Linked DNA regions of Homo sapiens: region 1 is linked to region 2. The links come from fine-mapping of genetic effects on gene expression. Tissue or cell type: tibial artery. Region 2 holds a variant in brackets; the other region holds the start of a gene. All regions are shown on one strand. Distances are from middle to middle. Region 1 holds the start of CARMAL (coronary artery disease region linked MFGE8 regulatory lncRNA). Region 2 overlaps CARMAL (coronary artery disease region linked MFGE8 regulatory lncRNA).

Region 1 (5,376 bases), 35 kb after region 2:
CCCCTCCTCCTTCTCCCTCCTCTTCCTCCTCCTCTCCTCCTCCTCCCCCTCCTCCTTCTCCTCCTCCCTCTCCTCCTCCTCCTTCTCCTTCCTCCTCCTCCTCCTCCTTCCGCCTCCTCGTCTCCTCCTCCTCTCCTCCTCCTTCTTCCTCTTCTTCTTTTCTTCCTCTTCCTCTCCTCCTCCTTCCTCTTTCCCTTCCCCTCCTCCCTCCTCTTCCTCCTTCCTCTTTCTTTTCCTCCCCCTCCCCCTTCTTCCTCTCCTTCTCCTTCTCCTTCTCCTCCTCCTCCTTCTTCTTCTTCTTTAAAAAAGAGATAGGGTCTTGATCTGTTGCCCAGGCTGAAGTGCAGTGGCACAAAGATAGCTCACCCTAACCTTGAATTCCTGGGCTAAAGTAATCCTCCCACCTCAGCCTCCTCAGTAGCTGGGACTACAGGCATGAGCCACCATGCCCAGCCCAAACCCCAGCTCTTCTGCTGAAAGCAAACTTGCCCCCCTAGGGTGCTAGAAGAGCTCAGGCAGGGTTGGCTGCCACCTTCTGAGGGACTGTATGTCTTACTTCTGTCTGTCTTCTCCACAGCCCTGTTGGTTACCTTTTCCTAGCTACTCCCATGGTTTTGGGAAGAACATTTGTCAGAATGGTGAAGGGAGGGCCCCTGGGGCTCATCCCAGTGGTCAGCATAGGCATCAAAGCAGATTACGGCAAGCCGTGGAATATGTACTAGTGGAGGAAACAAATGGTGCTGGGCAAATTAAGAAAGAAGGTATAGGCCGGGCGCCGTGGCTTATGCCTGTAATACCAGCACTTTGGGAAGTTGAGGCGGGTGGATCACTTGAGGCCAGGAGCTTGAGGCCAGCCTGGCCAACACAGTGAAACCTTACCTCTACTAAAAATGCAAAAAAAGAAAAAAAGAAAAAAAAAATTAGCCAGGCTTTGTGGCACACACCTGTAGTCCCAGCTACTTGGGAGGCTGAGGCATGAGAGTCACTTGAACCCGGGAGGCAGAGGCTAGAGTGAGCCAAGATCACCCCACTGTACTCCAGTCTGGGCGACAGAGCAAGACTCTGTCTCGAAAAAGAAAAGAAAAAACAAAAAGTCTCCAAAATAAATAAATAAATAAATAAATAAATAAATAAATAAATAAATAAGAAAGAAAGAAAGAAAAGGAAATAAAAAAGAAAGAGAGAAGGTATAAATTTCCAGGTGGGAAGTAACCAGGACAGGAAATCTTCATGGAGGAGGTGGCACTCGGTGTAAGGATTTAGAAGAGATAAGACGGAGGGAAGGCAGGAATGATGGTCTAATTGGGGAGCAGAGAGGGTGTACTTGGAGCATGTGCTTCAATAAGAAAAGTGTCTCAGTTTTTAAGCTAATGTTGACCTGGTAAAAAGATGTTTGAGGGAGTAGGGTAAAAGCAAGACTATAGTGTTATGGAGAAGGTGGCTGAAATCCTCAATAGTGTCACTGAGTGGTCCTAAGCAGGCTCTGGATCCAGGCTGCCAGGGTTCAAATCCTGGCTATGCTATGCAGCTGCTGCATGTTCTTCAGCAGGTTACAAAACCCCTCTGTCCCTTGAGTCCTCAGCTATGATGTGGAGACAATAATGTACTGGTGTCCAAAAGTGGCTATGAGGATAAGTTTAGAAGTTTAGAAGTATAAAGGGCTTAGATGAGTGCTCGGCACATAGTAATGCTCACTGTATGTTTAGCAATAATGGTGATGGTGATGGATAAGATAAAGATGGACGCCCCTCCCAACCAAACACCCGGGTGACCTCTGGTTCCGACCCCCTCCAGGCCCTCCTGCCCTGATGTTTGACCTCAGCTATGCCTCTGATTCCAGGTAGGGGAAGATGCTTATGCCCTTCCAGGTCTCAGGTTGCTTATTCTGTGACCATCTGACCCCTAGCAATGCTGTCTCAGCCCCTCCAGGCCAGGTCTGGGTGCCGTGGGCCCTGCTGATGAGGTGGTGTGTCATGCCTGGTCAGCAGGGCAGACCGAGGGGCAGAGCTGCTTTCCCCAGCAGGGGAATAGAGTTGCGCCTTGCCTCAACTCTGCCTCTCACTGGCCTCAGTTTTCTTCTTAGTGGACTCCTAGGACATCTACCCAGATGCCCGGACAGAGGCACAGGCTTGGCTCAGGTCTTCCAGCCAATGAATAGCCAAGGCCGGATTCACACTAGGACAGTCTGGCTTTTAACTGCTGCACTAAGAGTCACTGCAGTAGATCCAGACATCAAGGAAGGTTCCCAGAGTCCTGGTGCCTCTGTGCCCTTAGGCGGGTGAATACTGATGGGTGGAGACAGAATTGTTACAAATATATAATAAATAAGTTATAGTAAAGCAGAATTCAATCCGAAACTCAGAAGAAAAGCAGTCCCCTCCATTCTATTGCAAACCACCTCTAAACTTCGTGGCTTAAAACCACAAAACTCACATTTGCTCATGATTCTGCAACGTGGGCAGAGCTCGGCAGCGGCAGTTCATCTCTGTTCCACATGGCATCAGCTGAGGCTGCTCCACCGAGGCTGCAGGATCCAGTTCCAGAATGGCACACTCACGTCACTGGAAGTTGATGCTGGCTGGCAGCCAGGGCCTCCTCTTGGCCTCCTTACACAGTTAAGTTAAACTTCTGCAGCACAATAGTTGGGTTCCAAGTGGGAGCATCCCAGGAGGAAGCATCCCAGGCCAGGGGTAGGCACTTTTCAAGCCTCTGCTGGCATCTTCTTGCTAGAGCCCTATTGGCCAAAGCTTGTCAGCTGACCAAGCCCAGAGTCAGTGTGGGAGGAGACTACACACAGTGGTGAATACTGGGAGCTGTGGTTTACCGAAGTGTCTGTCTGTCTGAACTTCTTTTTCCTAAGGCTCGCTTTGGTGCTCCTCACATTCTCCCATCAGCCTCCTCTGAAACCTGGTTCCATCCAGTATCCTCTCTCTCACCTCGTCCATTGCTCCTTCTTCAACGAATCCCTCCTTTCAGCCAACAGACCCACTCAAGCCACAGCTATCCCCGAACAGCTCCGTTCAGCCCTGCGTCTCCCTCAGGGTGCCGTCCTGTCTCCCTCCATTCCTTTGCTTCCAAAACCCTTCAAATAGCTGCTGAATGCTGGAAGCAGAAAAAGTTCCCTAAAGCCAATTTGCTACATTTATGAAATATTCTAGGCTGGGCACTGTGTCTCACGCCTGTAATCCCAACACTTTGGGAGGCCAAGGCGGGCGGATCACAAGGTCAAGAGATCAAGACCACCCTGACCAACATGGTGAAACCCCGCCTCTCCTAAAAATACAAAAATTATCTGGGTGTGGTGGCACGCACCTGTAGTCCCAGCTTCTTGGGAGGCTGAGGCAGGAGAATCGCTTGAATCCAGGAGGCAGAGGTTGTAGTGAGCCAAGATCGTGCCACTGCACTCCAGCCCGGCAACAGAGCCAGACTCTGCCTCAAAAAAAAAAAAAAAAAAAAAGTGAAATATTCTGATTTGTCCATTCTAAAGAATTTTTTCTTTAATGTTTTCAATGAATACGAATATATACTGTTAATGAATGCATTAGTAAATATATTCAAGAATATACTCTTATGAATATAAATAAAAATCTATTGATAAGAAGTCTAAACTACTCGATGACTCTTAGGTTCCAGCAAGCCCATAGTCTGTGAATAGATTCACAAGTGGAATATATTCATATTCACTGAGAAAAACTTTCTTCAAAATTTTTGACAAATTTGCCAAAATTGGCACACATCTCTTAATTAAAAAATTTCATCCCTCCTTTCTTCCATCCATTCATCCATCCAACGGATATTTATTTGAATGCCATGACATGCTCAGCACTGGGGCATAGTGTGGTTGAACACAGACCCAGCCCCGGCCCTCATAGAGTTTACAGTCTAGTAGGGGAGACAGTTACTCATTAAGTGATCATTTCAAACAAACCCTGAAACTGGCCGGGTGCCATGACTCATGCCTGTAATCCCAGCACTTTTGGAGGCCAAGATGAGAGGATCACTTGAGGTCAGGAGTTCGAGACCAGCCTGGCCAACACGGTGAAACCCCGTCTCTACTAAAAATACAAAAATCAGCTGGGTGTGGTGGCGGGTGCCTGTAATCCCAGCTACTCCGGAGGCTGAGGCAGGAAAACTGCTTGAACCCAGGAGGTGGAAGTTGCAGCGAGCTGAGATCGCGCCACTGCACTCCAGCCTGGGTGACAGAGTGAGACTCTGTCTCAATTAAAAAAAAAAAAAGAACACTGAAATTGCAATCTTGACCAGTGCTACCATACCTTTTCCAGCTCATGACACGCCCTTTGGCACGCACTGCTTTGGAATTTTGATCATACTGCTCCCTTTGCTGGCAATGCTCTTTCCCGCTTTCCCTGCTTGGCATATGCAGCTTAATTTTAAGACCCCAGTCAACAGCGCTCACTGTGGCTCTGGCTCCTATCCCCAGGAAAGATGAACTGCTCCATTATTTATGTTCTAGCAGCACTTGGCATAAACTTCTAGCAGTGAACATATCAAACCATAATATATTATATCTGTGTCTCTTCTATTAGATCGTAAGTGCAATAGGGTCAAGAATTCTGTCTTCAGAGGCTTGGGTGGAGTGAGTGTGCATGTTTAAAAAGAGAGAAGTTTACAAAAATGTTTAAAAAGAAAGAAGTCGGGGGGTGGGGGGCGGGTGGGCAGGCGCAGTGGCTCACGCCTGTAATCCCAGCACTTTGGGAGGCAGAGGGGGCCAGATAGCTTGAGCTGAGTTTAAGACCAGCCTGGGCAACATGGTGAAATCCCATCTCTACAAAAACATACAAAAAAAAAAAAAAAAAATTAGCTGGCTGTGATGGCAAGCACCTGTAGTCCCAGCTACTCAGGAAGCAAAGGTGGGAGGATTGCTTGAGCCTGGGAGGTCGAGGCTGCAGTGAGCTGTGATCGCCCTTTGCACTCCAGCCTGGGAGACAGAGTGAGACCCTGCCTCAGAAAAAAAGGTATCCTTACCTGACATGGAAAAATTCCTCTGGGCACCCATTAGGGGACAGACACCTCCATTTACACTCATCCTTTTAAAGCCTCTTATAATTTGACCCACAATATAGACATCAAAAATAAGCTTGAGGGAGGCCCAGCAGCCATGGTGGCAGACAGGGCTGGCAGGTAAGGCTCTGGTGGCCACTGACTTGAGGGAGAGCAGCCTGCTGACCTCAGCCAGGGCTGCAGCAGTGGGGCCAGTGCCAGACAAGGTGCTCCAAGGGGCTAGGACCAAGTGCAGTCATCTTTGCCTCTCTGGCATCTAGCAGCATTGACTAGATGCTCACACACTCGAGAAATACGTGTTAAGTGAACGGTCCCTGTGACAATCAAGCAGACTTTTTTCTTTCCGATGACACA
Region 2 (5,376 bases):
CACATACTCATTCCTAACTAAGTACCCAGAGAAAAACATGGACAATAACGTTCATAATAGCGCCATTTGTAATAGCTTAAGGTTGTAAACAGTCCAAATATCCAAATGCAACGATCTGTTTAGGAGCAAAAGGAAGGCAGTTTTTGTGTGACTCAGTTTCCAAGCTTAATTTTTCCCTTTGACATAGTGAGTTTGGGGTCCCAAGGCTTTATTTTCTTTTCACAGTTATATGCCCTATCATGATGATTTATTATGAAGCCATATTTTAGTCCAATTAATCTGGAGGCAATGTTCAGAGAAAATTAGAAATAGGAGAGGTTGGAGCCAGGTAGAAGAGATAACAGGTTATTGCATTAGTTTCAATGTAAGTTGTTAAGGGCCTGAACTAGACAGTGGAAGTAAAAAGAAAAGAATAACAGTGATGTGAGCATAGATTCTTCAGGACTTCCCCACAGATTAAATATGGGGTGCAAGAAAGAGAGAAGGGTCAGAGATGATCCCAAGGTGGTTCTAATATGGGAGAGAAAGGTAAATTTACTTTAGATCTGTTGAGATTTTGGTGACACATATATTCAAGGGAAAGGGAAAATATGACATCATTACTAGAAAGGGAGCATTGGTAAGCAGGGGAGAGGCTGAGTTTTGTAGACAAGGGGATTTGGAGTCATAGTTTCTAGGTAACACGTTGCAAAAGCTGTCCACAGTACAAGATAATGGAAGTCATAGGCATAGACAAGTTTCAGAGAGAAAGAAAAGCAGACCAGGTTAACTTGAACTTGGGAGAATGAAACTTGGCAGGAGGAGAAAAACAGTGAAGGAGCTTGAGAAGTTACCACCACAAAGGGAGGAAGGGTTGACAGCTAACATTTATAAAACCCTTACTAAGAGACAAGCACGATTCTAAGAGTTTTAGATTTTTTTAAATATTTAATCCTCCCAATAACTCCACAGGGTGAATATGATTATGCCTGTTTTACAGATTAAGAAACTGAGGCCAGAGAGGTAAAATAATGTGCTTGAGGTCACAAAAGTGATATTAAGTAAACCCAAAATTAAAACCTTGGCAACATGAGCATGCATAATTCTCATTCTTAAGTATGTACCCAAAGAAACACACGGACAATAACATTCACAATAGCACCATTCGTAATAGCTTAAGATTGTAAACTGTCCAAATGTCCATCAACACTAGAATGGATAAACAGATTGTAGAACATTCATATTCAATGGAATACTATGCAGCATTGGGAATGAACAAATCATTACGATAAGCATGCCACCAGCATAAAGGTGAGTGAAAGAAGCCAGTCATCCAAGAAATGTATGCTATGATTTTATTTATATAAAGTTCAAAAAGAGGTAACACATGGCTGTGGTGTGAAAAAGTCACCTGACCTTTGTGAGGTGGTAGAGACTGGGAAAGGGCCTGAGAGGGGGTTCTTGGGTGCCAGTGATGCCCTGTTCCTGAGCTGGGTGGTGGTTACACAGGTGTGTTCACTTATGAAAATTCATCAAGCTGCTCACTTATGATTCATGTACTTTTCTGTGTGTAGGTAACAAACAAAAAGTACTAAAAAACAAGAAAGCAAAATAGAACCAGGGCATCTGATTTGAGGACCTACCCCCTTAACCACAGAGTGATCCAGAGAACAAGGGTCTTTTCTCCTCTTCCACAAAGAAAAATGTGGAAGGGGACCTTATAAAATTATAAATTTAAAAGAAATTGAAGAGATAGATCAACCAAATGGAATGTATGGGTCTTATTAGCATCCAAATGAAAACAAACCGTAGCTGGGTATTATGGATCATGCCTGTAATCCTAGCACTTTGGAAGGCTGGGGCAAGTGGATCACTTGAGCCCAGGAGTTTGAGACTGGCCTGGGCAACATGGTGAGACCTCATCTCTACAAAAATACAAAAAAGTAGCTGGACATGGTGGCATGCACCTGTAGTCCCAGCTACTTGGGAGGCTGAGGTGGGAAGATCACCTGAGCCCAGGAGGTAGAGGCTGCAATGGGTCATGATCGCACCACTGCACTCCAGCCTGGGTAACAGAGCAAGATCCTGTCTCAAAAAGAAACGAAACAAAACAAAACAAAAATTAAACTGTAAAAGACAATAACAAAACAATTGGGGAATGAATATTAATTATATTATGATTATGTTTTATAAAAAGTCCTTCTATTTCAGAGATACATATTGACATACTGATGGATGAAAGAATGTCTGGCATTTGCTCCACAAGAATGAGGATACGAGTGTTGAGATGAAAGATTGGCCATGGATTGATCATTGCTGAAGGTGGATGATATCTACCTGGACTTCACTGTACTTTGTCTATTTGTTTGAGTATTTTGTGAAATAAGAAGTTTTTGCAAAAGAGAAGAAGAAAACTAACGTTCAGTGTGTTCGCAAAGGAACTGATTCCCTTGGCTCCATATTTTTAAATTTGGATCTCCTTTGAGAGAGAAAGAGAGCAAGCACATGGGTCACAGGACTAAAGGAGAAAGGGGACGTGTGGGTGGAGCATGAGCTTGCGATGCCTGCTCCTGTGGTTTTCTCTCTTCCTCTACTCCTCCACTGGAACAGTTCTGGCAAAGGCCACTGTGACCCCCACTCACTGCTGCATCCAGCAGTTGGCTTTCAGTTCTTCTTTACTTGACATCTTGGTAGCTTGGGACTCTGGTGGCCAGGCCCCCTGCTTGGGAAGCACCTCTGGTTTTCCTTTGTCCATTTCACAGCCTGCCCCATGGACTCTTCTTCCTGTGCCTGATTCTTCAGTCCTGGGCCTGTCCTCAGCCTGCTGCTCTTCTTCCCCATACCCTCTTCCCTGGTGGTTCTGTCCTCTCCCAGCGCTTGAGTTGCTGCCAGGGCTGTCTTTCTAAACAGCAGTTCTCACCAACTGATTCCCTTGTGAAGACCCAGGAATAGCTTCCCATTGCCCAAATGATAACATTCAAACTCTTCCTGGAGGTACAGGAGGCCCTTCAGCATCTTTTTTCGCCTCCACTTCCTTTCTACCTTCCCTCTCTAGCCTTCCCTCCTTCTCCTCCCCTTCACACCCTCCGAGTCAGCCAGTGACATTATCAACACTTCTGGAATGCACCAGGCCGTTCCTTGCTCCCATACCTTTGACTCGATCTGGACTACTCACCCACACACTTCCCTACCTGGAAAACTCTACTCACCCTTTGAGACTCTGCTGCAAGCTCACTCCATCCATAAAGGCTTTCCTCATCTTCCT[G/A]TGGAGTTCATTCATCCATTCAATCATCCATTCCTAATAGATGTAGATGCAAAGACCTATGATAAGGCTGAGTGCTGGGGGCCAGAACCCACATCATTCACACTTTACCTCACAGTTCCTATCTCAGGTATTGCCTTACTTACATGATAGCTGCTCCCAAGCCCTACCCCTTGAGGCCAAGGAGGGTGACTTATTCCTCTTTGTACCCAAGTGATAGTAGGCACTAAAACACGCTTGTTCAATTGAATTGAAAGAGAAGAATTACCGAGAAAAGGCCTCTGGGTTTGGCCATTCAAACACTTTTGATAAACTTTGGGTGTCTCTGTACTAAAGTTTAGGGTTGGGGGTGAAGGGAATGAGGCTTTTTCTCCTGAGGGTTAAGGAGAAGCCAGGAATTGGTACCGCTGTAGGCCACTTGCTTGAGAAATGTTATCAGTGATATGAGGCAGGAAACAGGATGACAGCAAGATTGAGTGATGGCGGAGTTCAGCATATTTTAAAAGACAGATAGGGAAGAGCTAGTGGAAGTAGACTTGAGACGCTGGTGAGAGGCAATGTTCCAGAAGAAAATGACAAAGCAAGCTAGGTTCTTTTCTTTGTTGGGGAGGGGTTGGAGACAGGTGAACCTCATACAGGCCTGGGGGCAGCTCTTCCTCTAAGATGGAAGGGAAGGCTAGAAAGTGGAGGAGTCATAGCAGCCACTTCGGGTGCCTGCCTTATGCCAGACTCTTTCATTTCCATTACACTTAATCCTCAGTCTTCATTTTCAGATAAGGAGAATGGCTCAGTGTTTCAGTGGTTTTCCACCTGGTGACACATTAGAATCCCCTGAGGAATTTGTTAAAACAGTGCATCTGGGTCTCACTCCCAGCTTTCCTGATTTAATTTGATCTGGGAAAGAACACTGGCATCAGAATTGTTTAAGATCTTCAGGTGACTCTTTTTTTTTTTTTCAGATGGAGTTTCGCTCTTGCCCCCCAGGCTGGATGCAGTGTCATGATCTCTGCTCACTGCAACCTCCACCGCCCGGGTTCAAGCCATTCTTCTGCCTCAGCCTCCGGAGTAGCTGGGATTACAGGAGCACGCCATCACGCCCTGATAATTTTTGTGTATTTTTAGTAGAGACTGGGTTTCCCCATGTTGGTCAGGCTGGTCTTGAACTCTTGACCTTAGGTGATCCACCTACCTCGGCCTCCCAAAGTGCTGGGATTACAGGCGTGAGCCACCATGCCCGGCCCAGGTGACTCTTATGTACAGAGTGGAGAACCAATGTAAGAAATCTGTCAGAGGTGACCCGCTTGCTGGGATGGAATTTAATTCAGGTCCGCCAATCCCAAAGCCCTTTCTCTTTCTCCTAGCACTGTGATTCTGAGTGTGGGTCCCACAGCAGCAGCATCGGAAACACCTGGGAGCTTTTCTAACAAAAAGAGTAGTTCTAATCTACTAAGTAAAAAACGCTGGGGTGGGGCCAGCAATGCGGTTTAATAAGCCCTCCAGGTGGTTCAAGTTTGAGACCCACCGCTCTGAAATCTTGCTACTCAGTGTGATCCACAGATGTGTAGGATCGATATCATGATATTAGAAATGCAGAACCTCAGGTCCCCCAAGACCTGCTGAATCAGAATTTGTGTTTGGCAAGATCCCGAGATGCTTCGCATGGTTAGAGTTTGAGAAGTAGTGCGTGAGGCCACTAGTTTCCAAACCTGGCCAATGATCAGAATTAACACACTTTTTAAAAGAAAACTACAGATTCCCTGTAATCCCAGCACTTTGGGAGGCCGAGGAGGGTGGATCACCTGAGGTCAGGAGTTCGAGACCAGCCTGGCCAACATTGTGACATTCTGTCTCTACTAAAAATACAAAAAAATTACCAGGCATGGTCGTGGGCACCTGTAATCCTAGCTACTTGGGAGGCTGAGGCAGGAGAATCGCTTGAACCTAGGAGGCGGAAGTTGCAGTGAGCCAAGATCGTACCACTGCACTCCAGCCTGGGCAACAGAGCAAGACTGTCTCAAAAACTACAGATTCCCCAGATATTCCACACAAGTTTCTAGCTAATCAGGTCTGAGCTCACACCTAGGTCCCTTTTTTAAAGCTCCCCATAAATCTGATGATAGATTAAGTTTAGCATT

The links.
Region 1: CARMAL starts here. The variant in region 2 is fine-mapped to the expression of CARMAL in tibial artery (GTEx, PIP 0.92).

What each region holds. Positions count from the first base shown.
Region 1 is chr15:89,038,358-89,043,733 of GRCh38, reverse strand. It overlaps CARMAL (coronary artery disease region linked MFGE8 regulatory lncRNA), which reads right to left and starts at 2,736. Exons shown (of 4, transcript NR_183882.1): 1 at 2,434-2,736. It also overlaps a transcript of ABHD2 not described here.
Region 2 is chr15:89,073,197-89,078,572 of GRCh38, reverse strand. It overlaps CARMAL (coronary artery disease region linked MFGE8 regulatory lncRNA), which reads right to left. Exons shown (of 4, transcript NR_183882.1): 3 at 3,189-3,277. It also overlaps a transcript of ABHD2 not described here. Among named protein-coding and RNA genes, the nearest start is that of ABHD2, 13 kb to the left of the region's middle. The variant G/A (reference allele first, on the strand shown) is at 3,245.